3 linked regions of the Homo sapiens genome follow. The main gene of each other region encodes a partner of the protein of the gene in region 3 in a complex. Each region holds a gene or a part of one and is shown on either strand. Other genes may lie near its edges.

The links. The genes of interacting proteins can lie anywhere in the genome.
Region 1: KAT7 (region 3) and JADE2 share a complex: the UniProt entries of both Homo sapiens proteins name them as parts of the HBO1 complex.
Region 2: KAT7 (region 3) and JADE3 share a complex: the UniProt entries of both Homo sapiens proteins name them as parts of the HBO1 complex.

What each region holds. Positions count from the first base shown.
Region 1 is NC_000005.10:134,521,341-134,528,700, reverse strand, and holds the start of JADE2 (E3 ubiquitin-protein ligase Jade-2), read right to left. Parts: upstream 3,032-7,360; 5' UTR 3,007-3,031; coding exon of another isoform or gene 2,959-3,006; 5' UTR 2,690-2,958; intron 2,594-2,689; exon of another isoform or gene 2,415-2,593; intron 2,070-2,414; exon of another isoform or gene 1,943-2,069; intron 1-1,942. UniProt on the Homo sapiens protein: Scaffold subunit of some HBO1 complexes, which have a histone H4 acetyltransferase activity. Acts as an E3 ubiquitin-protein ligase mediating the ubiquitination and subsequent proteasomal degradation of target protein histone demethylase KDM1A.
Region 2 is NC_000023.11:46,915,421-46,922,451, reverse strand, and holds part of JADE3 (protein Jade-3), read right to left. Parts: intron 1-7,031. UniProt on the Homo sapiens protein: Scaffold subunit of some HBO1 complexes, which have a histone H4 acetyltransferase activity.
Region 3 is NC_000017.11:49,826,681-49,833,680, forward strand, and holds part of KAT7 (histone acetyltransferase KAT7), read left to right. Parts: intron 1-12; coding exon 13-119; intron 120-720; coding exon 721-822; 3' UTR 823-7,000. UniProt on the Homo sapiens protein: Catalytic subunit of histone acetyltransferase HBO1 complexes, which specifically mediate acetylation of histone H3 at 'Lys-14' (H3K14ac), thereby regulating various processes, such as gene transcription, protein ubiquitination, immune regulation, stem cell pluripotent and self-renewal maintenance and embryonic development.

The sequences.
Region 1 (7,360 bases), on a different chromosome or scaffold from region 3:
GCTGCAGAACCAAATGCTTTTCCACTCAAAACAACAGCCAACAGCACTTGGGGCAACCTAGAGGGCTCCAGATCAAACAAACATCCCTTCCTCTACCATGCAAACTTGCTCAATAAATTATTCGCCCACTTCGGATCAAAGCCTGTTTTTGCAGCCTGTGACCCAAAAAGCAAATAGCATCTCTTAAACATGAAAGCCCTCCTCCCTGCCTGGGTCAGCTTTATTACTCATTCCTTCCCCCTTATAGTTATTCTGTTGTTATTTTCCTCCTCTGCTTGTTAGATGGCTCTGCGAGTCCCAGCCCGTCTAAGGAAGATGGGACAAGACGGACGGTGCGTTCATCTGGGGCCCTAAGGTGAGAAAGAAAGTCAGGGTAGGGGAGAAGCCCTGGGAACCCAGGAAACAAAGCCAGGCCCGGTTGGCAGCTCCATGCCGAGCCCTTTTGCCAAATGTCCTACTGGGAATTTTACCAGTGAAGGGAGGGAGTTAATGCCACTCCGAGAGGAGGGGCCAGGCGGCCCTACCACCTCCCAGGTCCAGGAATCAGTTTGCAAACATAAATGCTAAGGGGGCGTCCTGACAGCCTGTCTGGGATCAGAGCTCAGGGGTCCTCCTTCCAACAAAGGCAAGGCAGCAGGTCCCACTCAGCCCCTTCCTAGACGCTTTGGAACCGCTCTGAATGGAAACATGACACCTCTCGATGACCCCCTACAAACTCTGACCCGGGATACAACTTTGTGCCTCGGGATCCTGCAGAAGATGACCCAGGGGTGCTAGACGCAGCGGCGAGGTTTGGAAATCTGCAGAGACCAGAATCGCCGGCCGCAGTGTGCCTTCGGCATACGGCAAAGACACCCAGTGACCCTTCACCTCCCCCAGCCTCCAGCAAGAGGCCAGCAGCCAAGCTGGTAAAAAAGTGCCCAGGCCAGCGGCAGTGGCTGAGGGGATTGGGAGGGGAGTTGCGCGCGCCTCCAGCCCGCCCCTGGAGGCAGTCCGCGGGACCGCAGGCTGGAGGCGCGCCGGCGTGATTCCGACCGCCGGAGCCGGGAGGAGGAGCCGGAGGAGGCTGCGGGGGGCTCCGGCCCAGGCGAAGGAAGGGCAAGAGGCTGTTCGACCGGGGGCGGCGCCGGGAGGTGGGTGGGCTTAACACCCAGGTCGGGGGAGGGGTTTAAGAGACACCGGGAAGGGCAGCCGAGCCCCAGGGGCGGGTGGGGTGGTAGCTGTGTGTAGTAGGGGACAGGGCTGGGCCTCTGGAAGCTAGAGTGAAGCCTTCCTGGCTGTCTCGCAGGCAACCCCATCCTCTGGCAGAACAGCTGCGAATCGCCAAGTTGACCCCTCTCGTCCCTTGGCCGAGAGGAGAGGATGTCTCAGGACCCAGGGATGGGCGGGAAGAAACCATGGGGAGCCACAAGTCTGCACCCAGGCGGGGAGGAGGCGGGCGGGCGCCGCTCCGCAGGCGCAGGCGAGTGGGTGGGAAGAAGGGAGGGAGAGGGAGGAAGGAGGTGAGGCCGGGAAGATGCCACTGCCGGGGGCGGGGCGGGGCCGGGGATCCGGCAAAGGGACTGCAGCAGCGCTAGGTGGGGGCGGGGGCTGCAATGTCACTCATTTGAGAGTCAGGTGTGTGCGTCCCAAACGGGGTCCGCCACAAGCCGGCATCTTCCTGGTACCACCCATGGTGCAGGGCCCTAGGCAGAGGGCTGGGGACTGCGGATCCGTCCCTGAAGCGGGACGCGAACCGGCAGAGTTGGGAGAAGGTAAACAAGGGCCACGCCCCCTGCCGTCGCCCCGCGGGCGCGCACCCGCCGCTCCGGCCGCCGCCGGTACATTTCCACTCTCCCAGCGCCTCTCCCCAGCTGGACTACCGCGCGGCCCCGGAGGTGGAGGCTGCCCCCGACCCCAGTCCTCACCCCTGGCGCCGAGGCTCCGCACCCTCCACACTCACCTGGAAAGGGTGTCCCCCGCCCCTCCAAAAAAACTGTCTAATTTGTGCAGAGCCTCCAACCCCAGGAGCCGAGCATGCTGCCCCCGCGTGCAGCGCCCGCGTGCACCGGGCCGGGAGAGGGGGCGACAGGGCGGAGGCGGTGGCCCCCGGAAGGTGTCTGGGACCGGACCGGCTGCACGTGAGCCCAGCGCGAGGTCATGTGCACCGGCTCAGCCCGGTTCGGCGCCCGGACGTGCTGCGTATCAACAAAATGAAACTCGGGGAGACAGGAGGGCAGATAGCTCCAGGTTCTCGGAGCCCCCGCCCGGGCCGCTCGACCTCCCCACCGTACCCATCTCCCGCCGCAGCCCCTACGCCCGGCCGGAGCCCGCGGGGAAGTTGCAGCCCTGGCGCGCCCCCGCCCGCCCGCGCCCCCTCGCCGGCCCGGGGGCGCTTTGCCGCAGTCATTAATAAAGAAGGTCGCCAAGCTCACCCTTCCAAAAGTTGTTGTTGCATGCGCCCCTCTCAGCCTCCCCGCACTGTACTCTTTAAAACACGACTGACCAACATGCGCAATCTCTCTCCCCTGTGCTGTGCATCCCCCCCCTCTCCGCGCTGGCTTCCTAGAACAGGCAGCCAGCAGGAGAGAGAGGGAGCGAGCGAGCAAGAGAGAGCGAGGGAGCGAAGAGCGCTGGCAGATCTGTTGCAAAAACGCCAAATAACGTCGTGGAGATGCGCAGGGCCCATCCGCCGGGGGCTGGATCTTACCTTGCTCCGCGGTGCCCCCCTGACGGGCGCTGCCCTCGGCTACGCGCCGCTGCAGGGACCGGCGCGGGAAGGATGCTCCCGAAGCCGGGAGCTCCTGGGGCCGGCGCGGGAGGGCGGGGGGCGCGCATCCATCCGGGGTCGCGGCGAGGGAGGCGGCCGGGCCCGCGGCGTCCCAGGCCCCACGCCCCCCGCCGGGGACGGTCGGCCCGCAGGACCTAAGCCGGTGCCGCTAGGAGTGGGCGCAAAGTAACTCCATGGACGCTACTCACCCCCCCCAAAAAATAGCCTCCAACTGCGATGGCCGCGGTCGGCACCATTCACCAACCCCCTGTGTATGTTTCTGTTTCTTTTTAAACCAAGACTTCCTTGTGATCTCTTTAGAAAAAAAAAATGTGTTGGGGTGGGGGTGGGGTGGGGGCGGGCAGGAGGAGCGAGGGAGGGGGAGTAGCCACTTTTTTCTTATTCACTCGGATCTCCGCTCCCGACACCCCCGTCGCCGCCCCCCCAACCCCCCGCCCAGTTGTTTGGCTCCGGCGGGGAGTCCAGGTAGCGTTGCGGGCCCCGTGGGGGAAGGGTGCCCTCCCTCGCAGCCCCACCACCACGCCTGCTGGCACCCTGGGCCCGGACTCCCCATGGACTCTGGGGCGCCCCTAGCCCGCCCTGTCCCCAGGGCCGGGCCCGAGCGGCGGCTGCGCCCGTGCAAGTCCCATCAGGTCTGCTCACACTTCACACACTCACACACATACCCCGCCCCTCCACTCTTTCACTCACACTTTCTGCTCACACCCCGCCCCCTACGCGCCCCAGACCCGGGCGGCGCCCCCCGCAACCTTAAAAAAAAAAAAAAGCGAGCTTATACTTAAAAAAATCTTTTGGCGCCATATTAATGACGTACTTAAAATTTGCCATTTCTCCCTGCGTCAAAAAGACGTTTCTTTGCAAATAACAGCCTGGAGGCGACACTCGCGGAGGGAACGAGGTTTGCACTGAGCACCCCGCCCCCCGGGGCTCCAGCGCTGGAAGACCCTCGCCCTAGGCCCTGCTTCTGAATCGCTGGTTTTAAAATGCGAATCGAATAAATTGCGTGGCGTTTTGCAGCACCAGAAGTGAGCAGAAAGTGCTGGCAGGAGGGGAGTGGAGGGGCGAACGCGAGTCTTGGGGAGGGGGCGCGGCCCTCCTCCCCGCACCCACTCCAAATGGAAAACTAACATTCCGGGCGGGGGAACTTGAAATTGTAGGCGACCTCAAGAAAAGAGGGGCGGTCCGTAGAGAGGGTCCCCATTGGGCTCGTCGCCCCCTCCCCCCTCCCGGGTGCCTCCTGGCGCCTAGCGCTGCCCCGCATTTCCGGGGGGTGGAGAAGGCAGTGATGAGCGGGTGGGTGGGTGGTTGCACATCCTGGCCCCAGCAGGATTTTGCCCCGGGGCGACCCCTTCCTCCTTGCTCTTCCTTCCCATTACCCCGAAAGGGTTAAAAACCGAGGGGTAACTTCCAAAGGCTGGCACATGGCGAGGAAGCGGGGCGCCCCTCTCCCCACCCTTCGCCTCCTCGCCCCTCCTCCTCCGGCTCCACTTCCCGACTTGACCTTGTGGTGCACAAACAGTACGCTCGGATCCTCGCAGTTTCTGGAAGAAGAGCCTGCGCTCGCCAGGCGGGCGGGCTGTCGGGCTGCTAGCCGGCGGTGGCGGGGCCTTGGGTCTGTTCCCGGAGCCGCGGGCCACACCCACCCAACCCGCTGCGCCCGCCGAGCTCACCTTCTCTCGAGGAAGGAGAAGGACTGGCCTCCTGGTTGGGGAGGAATCGGGGGTCAAGCTCCAACCTCCTCGGAATGCCTCTAGCTGGGGAGGGGGTGGGTCTGGCCTCGGGAGGAGGTTGTGGGGAGCCTGGCCCAACATCCCCAAAGCATCGTGGCCAACTTTTTCTTCCCCCTCATGGTCGGCTGCCCCTCAGATTATCCAATAATTTTTCAGCTCACCTTTGGCTTTGAAGGCACGTGGGTGAGTTGTGAATGGACACCGGAGTCGCCTTCCCTCTCCAAGACTGAAGATTGTTTATTCTTCCTTTCCCCTCCACCCCCTTCCATGGGAAGATAAATATTCAATTTACATAAGATGACATTTATGTGACAATTAAGAAGATTCCCCGATGGAATGTTGTGAACACATTTGCTTATAGGAGAAATAAATCTAATAATAAACAAACTCATAATAACAGCACAAATCCTCCGACAGGGCGGATTGTCTACCCAACAAAGAGGGAGATGATGAATGCTGAAATAAGCAGTTTTTGCAACAAGAAAGAAATATGAGCTCAAAGGGAGTCACTGCAACATTTCTTCTTCCTTGGCCTTCATTCACAAAGTCTGAGGAGAATTGTCTGGCAAGAGGATGGTCTGGGTATTACCTTCCAGTTAGACCTGGCTGTGGCTCTCAGTGGTCAATTGGTGGTATTTTTCTCTAGCCAAGCTCAGAGTCTGGAAACAGGTGCTGCAGACTTGGAGTGTGTAACAAAATAGTTAAATACTTAGGTTCTAATCCTGGCTTTGCATTTCAGAAGCTGTGTGATGTGGGCAAGTGAATTCATCTCCCTGGATCGCTTTTTCCTTTTGGGTAGAATGGGGTGGTTGGAGGGTTCTTGAGGCCATGTGTGCACATACACATATATGTATGTACGTACATATACAGGTGGTATGTGTAAAGCAGCAACTGGCACAGGGTGCATAGTGCTCATTAGCACCTTGCCTGGTACCTAAGTGGGTTTTTTTTATTTTGGAAGGGTGAAATTGTTCTCTGAAGCTTGATGGTCAAGGTCCAGATGTCCATTCCGGGGTGGGAGTGAGGGTACCAGTTTACAGTGGCACAGTCTAAAGAGATGACCTCCAGAGATGGATGAGGGAAGTGTGACCATTTAAAGTGCACCTGCAGTGTACTGGTCACTTTGTGAGCCATTCTATCTCATCCTCCCCCAAACCCCTTCCTCCCTTTTCAGAAAGGTTTAGTAACTTACCACAGCCACACAGCTAGTAAGTGCTGGCAGAATTGGCTCCTAGGTCTAGCTGACCTTGAGACCTATGTAGTTTCTATTTTACCACACTGCCAGAAATAAAAAGTATTACTATTATTGGTTTGATTGGGGATGGGGGGATCTGATTGCTGTCTTGGCAAGAAAGAATTTTATGAGCAGCACTTTGCTTCTGAGGTGGTTCCCTGACTTGGGGTGAGACCCAGGCCTTCTAATGAGCCCTTGAAAATACCTCTTGCTTAGGACTGGAAGCCCTATCAAAATCCTTGGATTCCCACAGTTCTCTGCTGCTGTTTAAGGTTAACCTTGGAAGCTTTAACAGAATGATAACGATAAAGCTAATTGTAACTCCTTAATCTTTATTAAAAGTCTCACAAATCATTCATTAACTTTTTTTTTTTTCCTTTTTCCACAATCTCTGCTTTGGACGTAATCATTCATTAACTTTTTACAGGAAAGAAATGAGAAGAAAGAGAGTTCTTGGAGATGTAATCCTTCATTGTTTTTCAACAAGCCTCCCGTATGCCAGAGACCATTCTTGGTGTTGGGGACACAGCACACACACACACACACACACAAATAAGTAAATAAATAAAATAAATGAGGAGCAGGGCAGGGAGAGCATCAGGAAAAATAGCTAATGCATGCTGGGCTTAATACCTACGTGATGGGATGATCTGTGCAACAAACCGCCATGGCACATGTTTACCTGTGTAACAAAACTGCACATCCTGCACATGTATCCCAGAACTTAAAAAAAAAAAAAAGGTAAAAATGTTAGCTGCTAGAGTGAGCAGGTTATTAAAATTGGACATGATTTTATTCTAAACTCTAAAATATAAAAATAACTATATGTTTGAAAGTGATTAAGTGCTGTGGAGAAACTCTTAAGAAGGAAAGGGCGATACACAGTGTGGGAGTGCAATTTTAAATAAAATAGGGAAGTTCTCACCGAGAAGACAGTCTTTGAGAAGAGCAGGTAAAGGAGTGAACTGTATGTGGGAGTATGTGTGTATGTACATGGGGGAAGAGAAGCCAGCCGTTCTTAACCTGGAGACCATAGACTCTCCTCTCCATGGGTCTGTGGATAGAATTCAGAGGATCTTGACCTTAGGTGAGAAAAAAATTACAACTTTATTTTCACTAATTAAAATGTAGCGTGTCCTTCAATTATGAATACAGATAACAAATCAGTGATATTAGCAGCACCTGTGACATTACTGCTGGTAGAAATCACAGATATTTTCATATCACTTTAGAGTTGTTGCAAATATCTTAAAATATCGTTACACTTTATGAGTAATTTATTGAAAAAGTATCATTTTACTCATCACTACTTCAAAATCATGCTGCTAACTCTTATAATTTAATGAATTAATAGAGAAGCACATATATATGTTTAAATATTTCGAGAGTTGTATTTCAGTACAATTTGTTTTCTTAATGATTTGTGGAACTTATTTTATGGATTTAAAGATACTATACTCAGAAGGAGTCCACAGGTGTCACAGACTGCCAAAACAGTCCATGGCACATGCACAAAAAAGGTTAAGAACCAAGGTCTCAAGAGACCAGCAAGTGCAATGCCTCCGAGGCAGGAATATGCTTAATATGTAAATGAAAGAGATTATATAGGGCCTTTTAGGTCATTGT
Region 2 (7,031 bases), on a different chromosome or scaffold from region 3:
AACAAGATAGAATTATTTGAAGAAATAATGGCTGAGAAACTTTCCAAAATTAGTGACAGGCAACAAACCACAGATATAATAAAGTTTAGAGAACACAAAGCAGGACAAAAATGAAAAAATTTTAAAAGCCACAATTAGGCATATCATATTCAAGCTGCTGAAAACCAAAGACAAAAAGAAAATCTTCAAAGTAGTCAGAGGAAAAAAGACACATTAACTATGGAGGAACAAGGATAAGAATTAAAGCAGCCTCAAACTAACGCGGGAACAGACAGCCAAACACCACATGTTCTCATTCATGGGTGGGAGAGTCGAACAATGGGAACATATCGACGCAGGGAGGGGAGCATCACACACTGGAGTCTGTTGGGGGATGGGGGACTGGGGGAGGGATAGCATTGGGAGAGGTGCCTGAAGTGGGTGACGGGTTGATGGGTGCAGCGGGCCACCATGACACATATATACCTATGTGGCAGACCTGCACATTCTGTACATGTATCCCAGAACTTAAGGTATTAAAAAAAAAAAAAAGGATTACAGCAGCCTTCTCATCAGAAATCACGTAAGCCAGGCAATGGTGGAGTACTATGTTGAAAGAGGAAAAACAACTGTCAACCCACAAAAGTGTCCTTTCAAAAGTGAAGGAAAATGAAAACTTTCTCAGACAACCAAAAACAGAGAATTTACTGCCAGCAGATCTGCCCTCAAAAGATAGGTTAAAGGGGATTCTTTAAGCAGAAAGACTGTGATCAAGGTAGGAAACCTGGATTACCATAAAGAAATGAAAAGCATTGGAAAAGGAATAAATGAAGGTAGAATATAATCTTTTCTTTTTAAACATTTGAAAAGCCAATTTCCCAAACACCAGCTAAGGGCCAATCGTGCACGTTGGCCTTCTAAAGACAGCAGCCTCAGGTCTGCTATGTTAACTCTTTTCTGCACAACACAGTATATTAAAAAAAAATCCTACAACATCATACTTGATGGTGAGAGATGGAATGCTTTCCAAGATTGGAACAAGTTAAGGATGTCCTCTCTCACCACTACAACTCTGAAAAAGAAGAAAAAAGCCAGGCCAGGTGCAGTGGCTGACGCCTGTAATTCCAACACTTTGGGAAGCCAAAGCAGGAGGATCACTTGAGGCAGGAGTTCAAGACCAGCCCGGGGAACATAGCAAGACCTTATCTCTGCACAAAAAATATTTAAAAATAGGTGGGCATAGTGGCATGTGCCCATAGCCCCATCTACTCAAGACGCTGAGGCAGGAGGATCACTTGAGCCCAGGAGTTCAAGGCTGCAGTGAGCTATGATGGGGCCACTGCACTCTAGCCTAGGTGACAGAGCAAGACCCTGTCTCTTAAAAAGCAAAAAAAGCCAGACGTGGTGGCTCATGCCTGTAATCTCAGCACTTTGGGAAGCCAAAGTGGGAAGACTGCTTAAGACCAAGAGTTTGAGACTAGCCTGGCCAATACAGTGAGACCCTGTTTCTATAAAAAAATTTTTTTAAAAAGTAACTTAAGCATACCCTGAGAGAAAGATTTTAAAAAGCCAGAGTACTCTATTACCTGATTTCTAGGCTTATTATAAAGCTATAATAATCAAGACTGTGTGTTAATGGAGAAATGATAGATATATAGATCAATGCAACAGAGAGCCCAGAAATAGATCCACAGAAGGATAGTCAACTGATTTTTGACACATATGCAAAGGCAATTCAATGGAGAAAGGGTAGTCTTTTCAACAAGTGGTGCTGGGACAACTAGACATCCATACGTGGAATCACATTCATGGCAGGAGAATATAAAATGGTAGAACCACTTTGGAACATAGTTTGGTAATTTCTGTCAAAGAAAAATCCACTAATCCCATTCCTACGTATTTACCCCAATAAACTGCAAACTTATGTCCACACAGAGATCTGTACACTAATGTTTACCACAGCTCTATTGAAAACCACCAAAAAACTGGTAACAACTAAGTCGTCCTTCGACAGGTGAATGAACAAACTGTGGTACATCCATACAATGGAATAGTATTCAGTAATGAAAAGGAACAGGCTATTCATTCACATAATATGGATGAATCCACTAAAAGCAAGACCAAAAAAAGGCTACATATTGCATGATTCCACTCATGTGATATTCTGGAAAAGGCAGAATTATAGTTAAAAATTCAGAAGTACACTATCGTGAGGCATTTCTAGGGGGAAAAACTGGCTAGATTTTTTTTGAACAGGAATAGCTCTGATCAGGTCAACTCGGATAGGAGTCTATGGAATTTTGCATCACTATATATCATCTCTTTAAAAAATGTATTTAACTTTTAAAATAAGAAAATATATTCACATTGCTTAAAATTCAAAACACATACGTAAAAGTTTATGTAGTGAAAAGTCTCCCTCTCACCCTCTACCTGCTTGGTCATGCGTGTTCCAAAACTATCAGTGTCTTCAATATTCTTGATTGACCCTTAGGATATTACCAATCTTTTGCTACTACAAGCAATACTCCAATTAATATGCAAATATTTGTTGAATAAATTCCTGGAAGTGTTTGTGGGGTCTAATGATGTGTGTGTTTATAAATTTTGATTGCTCTTTCAAGTCACTGACTTTTAAAATGTCAGAGATTTTTAATTTTTATCCTAGGAGGAAAGAAGAAAAGCTAACATTCTACCACCAGGCAATTTTCTGGGGGAATGTACATCTCTAAGACATACAAAATGAGCCTTGTATAGTTTCCCACACATACTTCCTGGGGTCCAGTTGCATTTTCATGTAATATATTTCAGGCCACAAGCTGTTGTGAAGCCTATTTCAGTTATGTGGAAAGTGTTACTTCTGAGATCTTCACAAGCAAAGGTCAAAGGCTGATGCCCCAAATTGGTAATTCCTGGCCACTCACTTCACAGTACAATGCTGGATTTTTCACTGCAACCACAGGAAGATTTTTAAATCTTAACCAATTAAAACACATTTACAGAGAATCCCTTGTCCTTATTACCAATGCTCAAATACGGATTTCCTCTCTTAGGTACAAATTATAAATCATATAAAGGTTCCAAGGAAAGACTGCAAATGTTTCTTTCATCTCTTAAGTGGTGGTGGTTCCCAAATAACGGTCTTTTGGCTTGACCACAAAATCTAGTAGAGTCTAATACACTAGGGTTTTCGTGATAATGCTTGAATGGAAGGTTGAGGAAATCTAGAGACTCCTTTGATAATAGCCACACAAGATCAGAAAGCAGTTAAGCCACTCACAAGAATATCTATGTCCAAAACCACACTGTCTGCCTTTGGCTTCTTCCCAGAAAAACCATCACTCCATTCCACACTTGGTGGAAGAGGTGTTACCAATGGCACAATCACATTATTTAGTCTCTAGAATACACTACATTCAGAAATGGGTGTTTAACAAGATTTATCAAAGCTTAACAGCTTACATTCATTGCTAATTATTATGAATTATTGCAGTAATGGCCCCCAATTTTTTCACATCTCCCTGTATCCACACCTTTGAATGGTCACCACCCACAATGACTCTGGGCTTGGCCACAGAAGCACTTCCATGCTTTAGCTTATGGGACAATAGCAAATGTGACACAGCAAACATTTGAAAAGTGCTTGTGCACTGGTGCTTGCTCTCACTTGCTACTCTGTGACTTCAAGACCACCATGTTAGTAAGTCCAGACTAGCCAGCTGGAGGGCAGACCACATAGAATGGAGATGAACCATCCCGGCTTAGGGCCTCCTAGACCAACCAGCCTGCCAACCACCAGATGTGTGAGTAAGGCTATCCCAGATCATCTAGCCACCAGCTAACCACCCTCCCCCAAAAAGCTAATTGACACAGGCTACTTAAAAGTAAATATGTTTGTGGCCTAGTACTTATGGGAAGGGGAACAGAACACTGGTTTTCCTCCTGTGAAGTTTACTCTGTAGATAAGAAATAGTTTCAAACAGAAAAACTTCTAGTACCTGGATGAGAATAAATATAAATATATAAGTATTGAAAAAATACTTAAGTCTTCCCAGATTCTAACAAATGTGCTGTCTGCCATCACAGATGGCACACACATGCAAAAAACAAAAAACATAAAAAAATTTCCATTTAGTCACTGAAGTATCTTTATCATGATATATTTAAACCAAAGTCTTATACTCGATAGTTCCATTTCTAACACTGAACAACAACTCAGGTTTCCAGGAATTATGTTTTCTCTCAATTCTACTTTTTCCCCATGTGACAGGGATCAGTGAGAGCTGAAAGAGCTCCCTTAATGCAGCCTAAAAAGCATCAGCTATATGAGCCTAATTAAACCTCCTTCTAGAAGCATTCTGAAGGACCAGCTTCTTCCAGCATCATAGAAACTCTTTTTAGCCATGTTAATGGCAGTCGATAAAAACTGTTTAAGACCTACACATTTGGTCCAGAGACATTGCCTCTATTGGATTGCAAGGTGGGACACTGAAGGGGAAATGACTTTCTTAAACCATTTTTGTTTAGGCCTCACTATATGCTTCCCTGGATGAGAGAGGATGAGAGAGGATGAGAGAGAGAGAGGATGAGAGAGAGAGAGAGAGAGAGAGAGAGGATGAGAGAGAGAGAGAGAGAGAGGATGAGAGAGAGTGAGAGAGAGAGAGAGAGAGAGACAGACCTCCCATTAGAGAGAGAGAGAGAGAGAGAAAGAAACACCTCTCATTGTACTTGGAATAAAACACAAGCTCTTTAATGAGGTCCCGTAAGGCCCTGTCAATCTTTCCCTGCCCACCTCATCTCTCTTACCCCAAGTCCTAGCCAAACCTCTGTGGATCCTTTCCACATCTCTCTTCCACCTCAGTGCCCTCACAACACCTGCTGCTACCCCTGCCTGGCAATCCCTTCTCTCTAACCCTTACCTTGCTTATTCCTGCTCATTCTCAAGGCTCAGGGCACCATGCTGGTCTCCCTCACAGGGACATTCTACCTTATACTTGCTGCGTGACCTTGGGCAAGTTACCTTTGCTTCACCTTTCTGAGTCTCACACCTCAGAGAGAGAGATCCTCTGTTAGTTAAGCACTTAGCACAGTACTCGGGACACAGGAAATGTTTAAGAAATCATTGCTGCTGTTATTGTTATTATCCTATATGGTAATGTCCATCATAGCTCTTAGTGCAATTAGATATTTATTTGTTGAAAAAATAGAAACACACCGAGCCACCCCCACCCGCCCCCACCAGCTTGGATCCCACCTTAATACCTATTACTTTTCAGGCAATTTCCCCATACATTGCATTTTTGTAGAGTAAGATGAAATGAATGTTTACAGAGCATTGATCAATTCTCACTACCACCCTCAGAGATATGGTTTGACAAAGAAATTGAGGCACAGAGAAGTTAAATAACTGGCCAAGAGCAAGTGGTAGAGTTAGGATTTGAATCCAAGTTGGCCTGACCTCACAGCCTGTGCTGGGTATATGACACCAAAGGCTTCTCTAACTCATGAACCTTGTCATCTAAGAGCAGGCCTCAGAGAAGACAGATCTTCATAGTTACACCCATCCCAAATGACTCCCAGAGATCTACTTCTCAGATCCTTAACCAGGATGGTGCTCCCATCACTCCCTGTGAACCCCTTCAGCAGAGCACTCTTCCTCCTGACTGTGAGAAGATGACTTAATTCCTTTCCACTGGAAGTTGAGCTGTTAAGGGGGTATCTTTCACCTCTTATACCCCTAGCAAACAGAAGGTATTTAATACATGTTTGCTGAATGAATTAAATGAAAATCTTGGAGAATATATTATTGTTGCAAAGTTGGGGAGTGGAGTGAATTTTCATTAACAGTATTAAAGTTTGGCATAGTTAAGAACAAACTTGACAAGAATGGTGAGAAAAGTGGAGTTTATCTTAACCACTTTTACAATCGATAATGATTTCTATATCTAGCCCTAGAGATTCTACACGGTTTACAAACTGTGTGCTTCACAGCTGTAGGTAGACTTTGCTCTACCTCTGGACCCTGCCTCACCACCACTGTTCTGCTATACCCAGTGGCTGCAACTGAGCCACTGTTCAGGACAGGATGCCCTTGATAAGTACCAATCTCTCAGTGATTACTAACAAATGGCTTGAAAGAAACAACAAATAATAAATTTCAGTGATTACTAACAAATGGTTTGGAAAGAGAACTAAAAGAGCAAGTGATAAAGCAAATGAGAGCAAACCGTTACTAATTGGGAATATAGTGAGTTCTTTGTACTATTCTTATAACAGTTTGTAATTATCAAAATAAGTTTTTAAAATTTAAAAAAGAATGTGTCCCAGAAGATTCCAACACACAAAGTCTAGTGTATTGGCCATGCTGGTATCATATATTCTTGTCATGTGTCTCAAAACAAAACAAAACAAAACAAAACAAAAAAACACATTCTAGGCTTGGGTTTCCTTGCCCATCAGCCAATACCAAGGGAAAAGGAGCTCCTTGGGTAGCAGGGCACAGCCATAGTTCCTGGGTTTTGGCAAAGATTAAATTATTTGCTGCTTGAAAAGCATTGATGAACTCATAGGTGTTTCCTATTGGTCAAAGCCCCAGTACTATTTCCTCACACCAGGTCCTTTATTCAGTCGGCTGTCTTCTGACTTATCACCTTCCTTTTCACAAGCCTAGCTATGAAATCGGGCAAGTTTTTCCCAGGACCCTTTTTTTTTTTTTACTTTCTCCCAAGAAAAGCACAGAGGCAGTTCTAATGGTAAGAATTTTGTTGTTATTATCTATGGAAAGACCTACAGGAACAAGGCAAAAATAACCATGAGGGAGTCATAAAGATTCCAGAAATCAGAAAACTCAAAGTGGTAGTTATTTGGTTTGTAATGACCACTTACTTGCTAGTACCCGTTTATTTGTTCATCACTTTTACCCATTCACCCTAGATCCTCCCCACCATACAAACCAGAATGTTTCAGCTTTCCCAGCCACTGTAACTGGAACAACAGAAACTTGTGAGCCATTAAAGTGTCCCCATGTTAGGAGAGTGCCAGACAGGTGTCAC
Region 3 (7,000 bases):
CTTCTGTTTCAGAAATCAGTCAGGAGACGGCTGTGAATCCTGTGGACATTGTCAGCACTCTGCAAGCCCTTCAGATGCTCAAATACTGGAAGGGAAAACACCTAGTTTTAAAGAGACAGGTAAGGTTCTCATCAGGGGCTTGCTCATTGCTGGATGTCCTTCAAGACTTAGCAGAGCAAAGTATGGGCCTTAAGACTGGAGAACCTTCCCTTAAAGGAGTTGGGCTACACGCCCCTTTTACTGGGTCTCATTTCTGTAGCTGGCAGTGATGCCTGTGTTGCCTTATCCTTATCAGAAGGTTTTGATAAGCTCCTGTCTCAAATTTGGATGACACAAGTTAAGCAGCTCCAGTTAAGCAGCTTTATGTTGTACAGCATTTCTGTCATTTGATGTTTTTCTTAGGTGGGAGGAAATTGCCCATCTGTAGAGGAATCTTCACAAATGCTGTCTCAACTCAAACTCACATCTAATTTTTTAAATTATTTCATATATACAATAAAGGTCGGTGAGCGATGATTTTCATTTCTCACTGAGGGTAAAGTAGGAAGAATGGATTAGATAGGAAAGCAGTTTATAAGTCAAAATATAGTATTTTTTTTGATACCCTAATATGTTGTTAAACCTTTGGCAATTCCTTCTTGGCGGTTAGTTATTTTGGAATCTATGTAAAGGCACTTGAGTTGAAAGTATGTAATCCTTTTTCCCATTGTTCTCCCTCAGGACCTGATTGATGAGTGGATAGCCAAAGAGGCCAAAAGGTCCAACTCCAATAAAACCATGGATCCCAGCTGCTTAAAATGGACCCCTCCCAAGGGCACTTAAAGTGACCTGTCATTCCGAGCCAGCGAACCCCAGCAGTAGGAATCCGTACCCTAGGGATCTGTCTGTCATTTCTCTGTTGCTCTTGTGATTGGCAAGTACAGTATCCTTTGGGAAGGCCATCCCCCTCAGGACTGTCCTGGCTCCGACCTTTGTGTACACTGCAGACGCTGGTTCTGAGGAACTGTTGTTTCGGCCTCAGTGAGGTTGCCTGGATGGGATCTGTATTAGACTTGAGTGCAGGTCTCTCAGCACTGACCCAAGGAGTTCTGTTATGGTACTGTACCTGTCCAGTCACTGGTTCTCTCCTCATGTCCTCTCGCCCCATGAGGTTGTGTTGTGTCTTCTAAGCGTGGTACTAGTGCTTGCCACCTGGTCACCAGACCTCCAAATATGGCTGCCACCACCAGGACCTTTCCAGTTACTCCTTATATGTGTGTTCTATGGAGGGGCAGGGAAAAGGTGGCACTTGTGAGTGTGTGTGGATTGGCAGGGGGTCCATTCACTTTGGGTTCCATCTTGCTTTAAATTTCTTCATTTTGATTAAGAGACCTCTTTTTGATCTGTATTGGGCTAACCAGAGCCAAATACTTTTGAAGAGTTTCCCAGGGACTAGTCATGGTAATAGCATATAATTGATCTGAATGAGATGGAGAGAAGAATGAAGGGGTGGTGGTTCTGGGTTTGATTTGAGTTCACCTGTGGGCAGTGGGCAGTGGGCAGTGTCTTGGTGAAAGGGAACGGATACTACTTTTTGCCTCACCGTAAAGTACTCACTAGTAAATATTTCCTTCTCTCTTTACTCCCACTTTTTACGTTTGCAGGTGCCAAAGTAATGTCCACTTTTCCCTTTCATGCTGCATATTAACTGGTTAATTATACTGCAGAAACCTTTTCACCTCCACTAGTCTGATACAGTACATCTGTACTTCCATATACCTTGCACTGATTTTGTCTGAGTGCCCTGGGAGAAGTAGAAAATGATTGAAAGTGACTTCCGTATCTCAGCCCATGACTCAGCAAGGCAGAATGGCCACCCCTGCCAAAGTTTGCTTCTCTTTTCAACAGTGCCTCACCCTCCCTCTAGGATTAAAGTGCTTCTGCCCTTCCACGAACTCCTCCTCCATTTCCTTTTTGGGATTTGTCACCATCCTTCTATTCTCTGGTCTTCTATTTTTGGTGTTGTTCAAGTGAAGGAAGAGATGTTCCCTCTAATTTCTCTCTAGCCCATTATAACCTGCTATCTTGGGGCAACTTTTGATGTATGACATGTCACCCTTCCCAACTTGGTCTCCTCCAACATGCTGTCTTCATGTGGAGCCCTCACCACAATCCCTGACTCCGGTCATTTGTGCCTTTCTCTTGTCATCTCTGTACACTACTTATATTCACTGTGGGTTGGGGGAGCTAATTTTAAGCATGTTCAGTGGCAGCTCCCCTCCAGTTTCAGTGTCACTGTTAAAATTTATCAAAAAGCAACTTCACTAGGGGTTTTCTTAAGGGATAAAGGCCTTTTACAGAAGCTAAACCCTTCCCCACATGTGGTAGAATGTGCTCTTCTATATCTACTCCTCAATAAAGCATGTTCTCTGCTCAAGTCTGTTTCATCTGGGGGCTCTCATTTATATATGAAAATGATGCACACGATCTGCTACTAATAGTAAATGCACTTGGGATTTGCTTTCCCTAGCAGTAAACTGTTGAGGGATGTGGTTTGTGGCTATGGAATGTTTTTCCCTGTGATACAGGCTGTCTGTAAAGATCAAGGGAGTGCTCACTCTGAACTTCTCTAGATGGTGGCACAAATTTGATCTGCCTCACTTTGGTTCCAGCTAATCAGTATACGTAGCAATGATTAGTCAGTATTACCCATTCTTTCACTAAGTGCCATTTTCCACTGATTTTAGGGGCAAAGGAACCAATAGGAAATTAGGATATATGGGGGTACAGTTGATGCCTGTAGGAGATGGGAACAGACATTCCTTCTCATCTCCAAGCTCATTCACCAGTATTGAGCAGTGTCACCTCTAATTATTGACTCTCTCGCAGGTTGAAATTATTCTTTTTGAAAATAGCTGCATTTTCATGTAAGATATACCCAGCACAGGAAAAGGGTGGCTGAGCACTAACCTCCGTATGGTGGAAAGGAGGAGGCTGGGAATTGTATGTGCTGGAATGGTTTCACTCACTGTGACCAGTAGTGGTGAGAACCCATACAGTTGAAGTTTTTTGCACAGTCCTGATCCCAGGTCTCCACTCGCTTTGCCATCCCACTTTACTCCCTAAAAATAAAAGGATTTATTATCTCATTTAAACCCCCACAGGTGTGGAAACAGAGTTTCACTTGCCTTGGCAACTTTGCATGAGACTATCCCATTTCATTCCGTTTTTTTTTTTTTGAGTCAGAGTCTGGCTCTGTTGCCCAGGTTGGAGTGCAGTGGCGCAGTTTTGGCTCACAACCTCTGCCTCCCGGGTTCAAGTGATTCTTCTGTCTCAGCCTTCCGAATAGCTGGGATTACAGGTGCCTGTCACCATGCCCAGCTAATTTTTGTATTTTTAGTAGAGACAGGGTTTCGTCATGTTGGTCAGGCTGATCTCGAACTCCTGACCTCAGGTGATCCGCCCACCTTGGCCTCCCAAAGTGCTGGGATTACAGGCGTGAGCCACTGCACCCGACCTATTTTTTTTTTTTTTTTTTTTTTTTTTTTTAAAAAAAGACAGTCTCACTCTATCATCCAGTCCGGAATGCAGTGGCATGATCTCAGCTCACTGCAATGTCTGCCTCCTGGATTCCAGTGATTCTCCTGCCTCAGCCTCTCAAGTAGCTGGGATTACAGGTGCAGGCCACCTGGCTAATTTTTGTATGTTTAGTAGAGACAGGGTTTTGCCATGTTGGCCAGGCCAGTCTCAAACTCTTGACCTCAAGTGATCACCCGCCTCATCCTCCCAAAGTGCTGGGATTACAGCCGTGAGCCTCTGCACCCAGCTTTTAACTCCCTCTTATCTGCATAACAGAAGCTTAGCTGCTTAAGCTCCTTTATTAGAAGAGCAAAAGTCTGAAATTATTCCTGAAACCTGCTCAATGGAAGTACCTACTCTATTGGTTGCTTCCCATATGGTTGTCACTGTACCTTCATACTGCCTCATTTGACCCTCATATTAGCCCTGTACAGTAGATGGGTACACTGGTTTGCCAAAGGAGACCTGGAATCCAAGGTGGAAGTAAGCAGCAAAGCCAGAAACTTCAATTCTGGTCTGTCTACCTTGATAGCCTGCACCCTCCCCTCTACCGTTTTCTTCCACTATTTTTGATTCCTTAATGATGAATCATCCTCTCCCTTCTAGTTGGATTTGTTTCTAATGGCTTCCATTACAAGGATAATAATGAAACTGGTGAAAACTTTCAGGCAAAAGGATTTTCTTTTTATATTTTTTCTTATTATTTTTTAATTATTAACCAAATTAACTCATTACAGTAAAAAGGACTGATTTTTAAGCCAGCTGTGATAGCTCTGTAATAGTCTGTAATCTCAGCACTTTGGGAGGCCAAGGCGGGCAGATCGCTTGAGTCCAGGAATTCGAGACTAGCCTGGGCAGCATGGTGAAACCCCAGCTCTACAAAAAATAGAAAAATCAGACGTGGGCACATGCCTGTAGTCTCAGCTACTTGGGAGGCTGAGGCACGAGAATCGCCTGAACCTGGGAGGCAGAAGTTGCAATGAGCTGAGATGATGCCACTGCACTCCAGCCTGGGTGACAGAGTGAGACCCTGTCTCAAAAACAAAAAACAGAATTGATTGATGTTAGTTGGCTTTAGAAGCAGCAAGTTTAGGGGGCTACAGAGCTAAACCAGGAAGCAAAAGATGTGCCTCATTCTGGCATTGTTTCTGATTTAGGAATAAACTGTTCAGTAAGCACTGTCCCTTTACTTCCATGGTTTTCTTCATTCCTCACCACAGCACAGTAAGGTGGATATTATAGTCTTCTTCTAGATGAAAAATTGAGGCTCATAGTGGTCTTGCTGCTGTGTCATAGCAATAGAATGAGAGAGCCTTGCTTCCCTGAGTCCAAATCCCATACTTTTGGCATTGTTATGAGGTCTGGTCACCTGATGCTTCCATGCTATTTTCCCATTTCTTATCTGGGGATAATGAGTCATATTAAGTAATTTTTTTTTTTGAGACGGAGTTTCGTTCTGTCACCCAGGCTGGAGTGCAGTGGTGCGATCTTGGCTCACTGCAAGCTCTGCCTCCCGGGTTCATGCCATTCTTCTGCTTCAGTCTCCCGAGTAGCTGGGACTACAGGTGCCCACCACCACGCCCAGCTAATTTTTTGTATTTTTAGTAGAATGAGGTTTCACCGTGTTAGCCAGGATGATCTCGATCTCCTGACCTCGTGATCCACTCGCCTCAGCCTCCCAAAGTGCTGGGATTACAGGCGTGAGCCATTGCACCCAGCCATTTTTTTTTTTTTTAAGACGACGTCTCACTCTGTCACCTATGCTGGAGTGCAGTGGCGTGATCTAGGCTCATTGCAACCTCTGCCTCCCAGGTTCAAGCGATTTTCCTGCCTCAGCCTCCCAAGTAGCTGGGATTACAGGTGCCCACCACCTCGCCTGGCTAATTTTTGTATTTTTAGTAGAGATGAGGTTTTGCCCTGTTGGCTAGGTTGGTCTTGAACTCCTGACCTCAGGTGATCCACTCACCTCAGCCTCCCAAAGTGCTGGGATTACAGGCAGGAGCCACTGCGCCCAGCCAAGTAACTTTTAACAGTGTGGTATAACCTTTAAATGACAAGGTGATGCTTTTGACTTGTCCTCAACTTTGATTTGTACTGATTTGTCCCTATAGTTCTGGGTGGGGTGGGTCAAAACAAAGTCTCGAGCTGTACCAGGATCAAGCAGCACAGCTCAGCCATGATCCTTTTACCACTTTTTTCTTCTGTCCTTGAGACTCTAATTAAAGCACTGGATTTTTAAAAATCACCCTTGTAAATATGCACACATTTGTCTATAGTTGAGGAAATTGTGCCGTTGAAGTCCATTCTTGGACATGGAGTTAAGAAACCCTGGTTTGAGAAAAAGCCCCAGTGAGACAGCAGGAATCCTTTTACCATACAACCCTCAACTAGTTTAGTGTGCTCAAGCTCAAATAACCAATCCCATCAAGTGAAAAGAATGGCAGCAGGGAGAAGGCCTGGCTCACTGAGGCTCTCAGCATTAGTTTCCTCTACCTCTTGTGTCTCACAGGTGCACATATGTACAGCATATCAAAGTGTTGAATGTCATGAGAATAAAATATGAAAACTACTTTGCTGAATGATAGTATGTGATGTGTGCTAGGACTTCTAGAAGCCACCCTTTGCTTTGCTGTTCATTGGGATCATGGAATCGGACCTCAGCTGGTTTTGCCTCAGCACTTTCTTTCACAAAATTATGTGTGACTGCCTCCTCCAGACTGTTTCCTGCTGATAGGGGCAGTTTAATAGCCTTCTTCCTGTGTGGTATCTGCAACAAAATCCCAATGAATGTCACCAAGAAGGAAACAAAGGATTGCCCAGCGATGAGAAATGTCCCTGGTGCCAAAACATCAGTTTGCCCCTAACCTCTTGTGCAATACCTTTAAGTCCAGGTCATGTTGTTACCATTTGGGGGTTTGCGGATTTGTTTACTTGTGCCCAAGAATGGAGAAAATAACCTGTACTATTGTACAACTCTGGCTCCATGGCTCCTCACAAATGTTCCATGTGAGATATAAACATCTTTATCCTCGACAAGTCATGTTCATTCCAAGAAACCAGTCTTTGTTCTTAATTGGACATTTGTTTCTGCAAACAGCTTACCATACATTCAATTCCAAAGTTATCAGAAACCTACACTCTTATCTCACAAATTTAGAGGTGTGGTAGATCATCTCCAAAGATGGCCACCAACAGTTGCTCTCATCCTCTGTGCACGTGCTATTTCCAATAAGGTCTATTTTTTTCTACAGTGAGGGCTGAACTTGTGACTTGTTTTGACTAATAGGATATGGAAGTGATATTTTGGCAGCTTCCACTTTTGCTCTTGAAAATAAGCTGACACGTTTCCAAACGAGAAGCTTGGGCTAAATTACTGAATGGTGAGAGACGATGCATAGGAGAACCAAGGTGCTCTAGTCACAGCACTAAAAGCCCAGACTTG